2 linked regions of the Homo sapiens genome follow. The protein of the gene in region 2 purifies or fractionates together with the protein of the main gene of each other region. This does not show direct contact. Each region holds a gene or a part of one and is shown on either strand. Other genes may lie near its edges.

Region 1 (3,500 bases), on a different chromosome or scaffold from region 2:
GCCTACTAGTAGAATAGGAAAATAGTGGGGGTCCTAATAAAGAGAATGACTTTGGTGATCTCATAAAATGCAGCAGGCAGTAAGCAGTAAAGGCATCAATCACCAGGACAGCTCTGGAGCAAACTTAAGCTCGTCAGCATACCTTTCCACGCATACTCATTCTCATCCAGGCATCCATGCCCATTCAACACACTTTTCAGGGTATGGGTGTTCTCAGCACTAAATTAACAGATATTGTAACTGTTCCATGATGTTTTATAAGTAAAAAATCCTTTGCAATCTAAACTTGCTAGAACACATTGTCAAATTTTAAATAATTTTCTTTCCCCTCAGAAATTAACTTTTTCAATGATAAAACATGTATTGACTTATCTTACCAATAGCAAGTACAATACATACATTAAAAAGCATTTTTAGAATTCTCTTAGTTATTCTGAAAGAGTGGGTTAATGTTTTATTCTCAGATTTTGGAACATGGCCACAAATGCAAAGCAAAAGAGTACTCAAATTCAGATTTCACATGTGTTGTAAAGCTGCAACTTGTTAAGTTTCCACACACATATTTGACCCATTAAGACCTACCTTCCTTGAATTTCCCATCTATCATTTATTAAATTAAATACGAAATACCTGATACTTTCTATATCCCAGGAGAGAAGTTACAATATAGGCTGTAAGTGTTACTGGACTTTTATTGCCACCTTGAAGCTCACTATGAATCACTCTTCCTGGATCCCAAAATTCACCGTTGGATTTCTGATGTCCTTTAAGCCAAGTGTATGTTCTGTGTAACACATTCTGATCAATATCTATGTAAGGATCGGCTTCAAGGAAACATCTTAAAACAAAAGCTGACAACCTTTATGAAAAGAGAAAAAAATTACATAAAATACACTTTATAAGGTCCACCAAATAACACCGAGCAAGCAAAACAACAACACTTTTTCCCCCATCAGAAGATTCATCAAAGGGGGAATCACTGAAGATGGAACAAGGAAAGAAAAAAATCAAAAAAGAAAGAGCAAAGGGACAAGGTAAGCAACTCTCTCTAGCAGGCAGAACTGGTTTCCACTTGGGCTTGGCCAAGAAATTCCATGTTGACTCAAAAATCTCAGATTTGAAAAGGAATTTAGAAATGATCTAATCCAGCTCCATTTTTTAATTTAATTTTATTTTATTTTATTTTTATTTATTATACTTTAAGTTCTAGGGTACATGTGCACAACGTGCAGGTTTGTTACATATGTGTACATGTGCCATGTTGGTGTGCTGCACCCATTAACGCGTCATTTACATTAGGTATGTCTCCTAATGCTATCCCTCCCCCATCCCCCCACCCCACAACAGGTCCCGGTGTGTAATGTTCCCCTTCCTGTGTCCAAGTGTTCTCATTGTTCAATTTCCACCTATGAGTGAGAACATGTGGTGTTTGGTTTTTTGTCCTTGCGATAGTTTGCTGAGAATGATGGTTTCCAGCTTCATCCATGTCCCTACAAAGGACATGAACTCATCCTTTTTTATGGCTGCATAGTATTCCATGGTGTATATGTGCCACATTTTCTTAATCCAGTCTATCATTGATGGACATTTGGGCTGGTTCCAAGTCTTTGCTATTGTGAATAGTGCCGCAATAAACATACGTGTGCATGTGTCTTTATAGCAGCATGATTTATAATCCTTTGGGTATATACCCAGTAATGGGATGGCTGGGTGTGGGGAAAAGAAAGAGAGATCAGATTGTTGCTGTGTCTGTGTAGAAAGAAGTAGACATAGGAGACTCCATTTTGTTCTGTACTAAGAAAAATTCTTCTGCCTTGAGATGCTGTTAATCTGTAACCTTACCCCCAACCCCGTGCCCTCTGAAACATGTGCTGTGTCAACTCAGGGTTAAATGGATTAAGGGCTGTGTAAGATGTGCCTTGTTAAACAGATGCTTGAAGGCAGCATGCTCGTTAAGAGTCATCACCACTCCCTAATCTCAAGTACCCAGGGACACAAACACTGCGGAAGGCTGCAGGGACCTCTGCCTAGGAAAGCCAGGTATTGTCCAAGGTTTCTCCCCATGTGATAGTCTGAAATGTGGCCTCGTGGGAAGGGAAAGACCTGACCGTCCCCCAGCCCAACACCCGTAAAGGGTCTGTGCTGAGGAGGATTAGTATAAGCAGAAGGAACACCTCTTTGCAGTTGAGATAAGAGGAAGGCATCTGTCTCCTGCCCGTCCCTGGGCAATGGAATGTCTCGGTATAAAATCCGATTGTATGTTCCATCTACTGAGATAGGGGAAACCTGCCTTAGGGCTGGAGGTGGGACATGCGGGCAGCAATACTGCTCTTTAAGGCATTGAGATGTTTATGTGTATGCATATCTAAAGCACAGCACTTAATTCTTTAACCCTGAGTTGACACAGCACATGTTTCAGAGAGCTCAGGGTTGGGGGTAAGGTTACAGATTAACAGCATCTCAAGGCAGAAGAATTTTTCTTAGTACAGAACAAAATGGAGTCTCCTATGTCTACTTCTTTCTACACAGACACGGTAACAATCTGATCTCTCTTTCTTTTCCCCACAGCTGGGTCAAATGGTATTTCTAGTTCTAGATCCTTGAGGAATCACCACACTGTCTTCCACAATGGTTGAACTAGTTTATGGTCCCACCAACAGTGTAAAAGTATTCCTATCTCTCCACAACTTCTCCAGCACCTGTTGTTTCCTGCCTTTATAATGATCGCCATTCTAACTGGTGTGAGATGGTATCTCATTGTGGTTTTGATTTACATTTCTCTGATGGCCAGTGATGATGAGCATTTTTTAATGTGTCTGTTGAATCCAGCTCCATTATTTTGTAGACTGAGAATCTGACAGTCCAAGAGAGTTAAATAAATTGTCCAAGGTTATTCATCTTTGGACTGTTCTAGATATTTACCAAAGAAGAGCTCCAACACGCTTCAGTCAGCCCCAAAGCTGTGGGTGAAGAATGCATACATAGTTCACAAGCAAACTGTAGTACTTCAGGTGGGGAAAATGATATTTTTCTCTCCTATAGAATGGGAGTTAGCCAACTGCAGCCTGTGGGCCAAATCTGCCTGGCCCAAATCTGGCCCTCAAGCCAAATACAGCCCAGGGCCTGTTTATGTGTGCACCAACCCAGCCCCCACCTGCCAACACCACCACCTAAGAGCGGGTTTTAAAAGAAGGAAAAGAAAAAGACAAAGACAGGAAAGAAAGAGGGAGGAGAGGGAGGAAGAGGGAAGAGCATGCAACGGAGACTCTACGTGGCCCAAAATGCCTGAAATACTTACAATCTGACCCTTTACAGAAAAGTTTGCCAGTCCCTGCTACAAAACACTATACTGAGGTAAAAAGAACATCAAGCAATACAACACTGAAAGCTTTCTATTTATGGTTCTATATCCTGAGTCAGGCCAAGGCCAAGAGAAAATTTGAAGCAGATCTGTTTCATGTTATATAAAGTTTCATGTGGTAAACATTACTGATATTCAA
Region 2 (3,428 bases):
GTCTGTGGCTGGGAACAGCTGATGCTGGGAACAGCTGATGCTGGGACAACAGATCGGGACAATTGCCCCTGCCCCTGCTTCAGGTCCCCAGGATGCTGCCAGGACCAGCTGCACGGTGACTCCCACAGCAGCTGGGGCTGGAAAACGGTCTTAGGATTTGGCTGGGAAAGGCCCCTAAGCAGCCTTTCGTCCAGTCAGTCTCAGGCCAGGCTCCTTTGACGTGCGTGGTGCCTCCAAAGGTGGACTCAGATGGGTTTTTCCCAATTTAGATATAAAAAGCCCCAATTAATGATTAATGGCTACTGTCTTTTTGATTTTCCATTTTTTTCCAACAAACTTTTTTGGAATTTCTGCCTATGACCACTTGTTGGCAAAAGGATGCCAGCAGACAGACAAATGAACAAGGAGCTGGCAAGAATCAATGGGAACACTTGGAAGCAGCCACCTGCTTATTTTGACAGTTTAGTTTTCTCCCCTGACCACGTGCTTATGGCTGCAGTTTCATATTTGGTTTTATAAGTGTCAGTTTAATTCAATTTAACACTTCTCTGCAAATTAAACTTAGTGAAGTCAGATGTCAGCTTTCCCCTTCTTTGGGGGCTCTGCCACGAATACCATAACTCCCTCTTGCTCTAGTGCCTAAAAATGTGGAGGTCTAGTTCAAGTCCCACTTTACAGAAGAGCAAACAGGTGGTCCCTAATTGGCACAAAGTATCCGCCTCTTCTCCCCCAGCTTCTATTACCAGGCATGGTGTCTCCTCTGCCCTCTCCTGGGCTCCCCTTTCTTGTGACGGGGTTTCCTCTTCTGGCTGCTTTCATCTACTTCTGTGTGTATCCATGGCTGCTCCTTAATATTTATGCCAACTATTATTATCATTATTTTCAGAGACAGGGTCTTGCTATGTCGCTCAGGCTGCAGTGCAGTGGTGCGACCTTGGCTTACTGTAGGCTCCACCTCTTGGGCCAAAGCGATCCTTCCACCTCAGCCTCCCAAGCAGCTGAGACTACAGGCATGCACCACCATGGCTAATTAAAAAAAAAAATCTTTGTAAAGACAGAGTCTCGCTATGTTGCCCAGGCTGCTCTTGAACTCCTGGGCTCAAGCAATCCTCCTTCCTTGGCCTCCCAAAGTGCTGCGATTACAGGCATGAGCCATGGCACCTGGCCTATTATTTTTAATAAATATTTTTAATGCTTATTGTTATAAAAAATGTGTGTTCATTGTTAAAAAGAATTTGAGCTAGTGTGGAAGCTCACAGGAGACAGCTCTCTGAGTTTACATTTACAAGACGGGGACCAACTCAGCTTTATTTGCCTGGGATGGTCCCAGTGTAAAACAGGAAGTCCCGCATCCTGGAAAACCTCTCAGTCCTGGGCAAACTGGGATGGTTGGTCACCCTACAGAATAGCTGGAGGACCCTTGAGGGGGACTAATTTCCAATAATTAATGCTATGGGGGTCTCAAAGTATCAGGTTTTGGGTTTTGCAGACATATACCCATTTATAGCACTGGATGGTAGAGTCTGGGCCACACACAAATACACAAAAATAAAATCATTCCTGTGGAACTCACTCTTAACGTACCTGAGGAGTGTCCAACGTCTTTGGACAAGGCCATACTCTCATGTTCCTTTTCACTCAGCTTTACCCACACAGAAATTTTGGGGACCCATGGGGGACTCAGCAGTTGCCAAGGTCTGCAGCCTCCTCCAAGGGGTTCCCATCTAGCTCTCAAGAGGAAGGAGGGGGTTCTCAGTCGCCAGGTGGGCATGGCACTCCCGAGGCCAGGTGAGCAGGTCAGTGCCTTGGGGCTCAGGGCTGCTCCGGTTCTTACCGAATTGATCCAGTCGTTGTAGTTGGAGACCCGCGTGAAGATGGAGGGCTTGTAGTAGTAGTTGCAACCAAGGACCGACGTGAGGCTGCCGATGCCATGCACCTCCCACCGGCCGTCAGATGCCTGACAGTTCAGCGGCCCACCGGAGTCTCCCTGAGGAAGGCCAGAGTTATAGGGAGTTGAAGTGGGAGGAAGGGGCTGCCCATTGGAACCATTGTTCTCAATGCATTTCTATTGTTCTGCTGCAGGTCACTGTCCTCTGAAGCTGGTCCTTGTGGTCATAGCTCAAGGTGGTACCATAATTCCAACAAGAGCCAACACTTATTCTTCCTTAGAGCTGAGCTAAGCATGTTCTATGCCTCATCTCATTAATCCTCACAAAATCCTATGAGGTAAATATTCGTAGTATCCCCAGGCCACGGAAGAGGAGAAACTGGAGTGTTGAGAGGTTGGGACTTGCCCAAGGTTGCACAGGCAGTTTGTAAAGGAGCTGAGGCCACATCCCAGACTTCAGCTGCCAGGCTCTTCCCCACTGGTTCTGTCTTCCCGCAGGTGGTCTATGTGGGCAGAGTGTGTAGGGCACAGTGTGATCTGAAGGGCGTGTGGATCTCCTTCCTACTCCATCCCCACTTCACTGCTAAGTCCAACACAGAGCAATTCCTGGTGGTTAAGACACTGTCTCCAGGAAGGTTTCCGTGACAGCTACCTGGAGGGGACACACTGCGCCATTGATGAGAGTAATTCAACAGAAAAACCAGAAGTCATCTTAGAAAGGCCTTAAGCCAGGGAATACTTTCCTTTGGTTCCCTTCCAGCGTAGAGGAAAGGATACAGAAGGACAGTCACGAGAGACCTTGATGAGACCCAGGGAAGGACTTCCCAGCAGTGAGATGGGTGGACACTACAAGGAGAATCTCAAAACATCTCAAAACAAGAACAAACAAGAACAAGGTCAGGTTTTTTTTTGAGTTTCACTCTGTCACCCAGGCTGGAGTGCAGTGGCATCATCTCAGCTCACTGCAACCTCCGCCTTCTGGGTTCAAGTGATTCTCCTGCCTCAGCCTCCCAAGTAGCTGTGACTACAGGCACCCACCACCATGCCTGGCTAATTTTTATTTTTAGTAGAGACAGGATTTCACCATGTTGGCCAGGCTGGTCTCGAACTGCTGACCTCAAGGCATCCACCCACCTCGGCCTCCCAAAGTGCTGGGATTACAGGCATGAGCCACTATGCCTGGCCAAAGGTCAGGTTCTGATATATCTGGTACCATTTCCGGGTGCTTCTGCCAGGAGGTCGGAGGATGGACCTATGGAGGGATGGTTTTCCATAGCCTCTTCCCATCCCCAGCCACATTTTGTCATGGAGCGGGGCCCCTGATTTTTGGTACTCACGTTGCAGGTGCATATCACGCCATCACCCCCAGCACAGATCATATTCGTCTTCACGGTGCTGCCCCACCAGCCAGAGCTGGAGCAGGTGGCATAGTCCACAACCAGCAACTGGCCCTGCTTCAGGTCATCAGGGAGAGCCCCGTTGGCTGAATGAGACCAGAGAGAAGCCATTAGGGACGCAGGGACTCCTGAGAAAAAGGAAG

What was found.
Region 1: the proteins of CELA2B (region 2) and CD109 purify together in Homo sapiens (affinity purification with mass spectrometry, with the first as the bait; one large-scale study listed by BioGRID). This does not show direct contact.

Annotation. Positions count from the first base shown.
Region 1 is NC_000006.12:73,804,203-73,807,702, reverse strand, and holds part of CD109 (CD109 antigen isoform 1 preproprotein), read right to left. Parts: intron 860-3,500; coding exon 631-859; intron 1-630. UniProt on the Homo sapiens protein: Modulates negatively TGFB1 signaling in keratinocytes.
Region 2 is NC_000001.11:15,485,844-15,489,271, reverse strand, and holds part of CELA2B (chymotrypsin-like elastase family member 2B preproprotein), read right to left. Parts: intron 3,372-3,428; coding exon 3,226-3,371; intron 1,988-3,225; coding exon 1,835-1,987; intron 1-1,834. UniProt on the Homo sapiens protein: Acts upon elastin.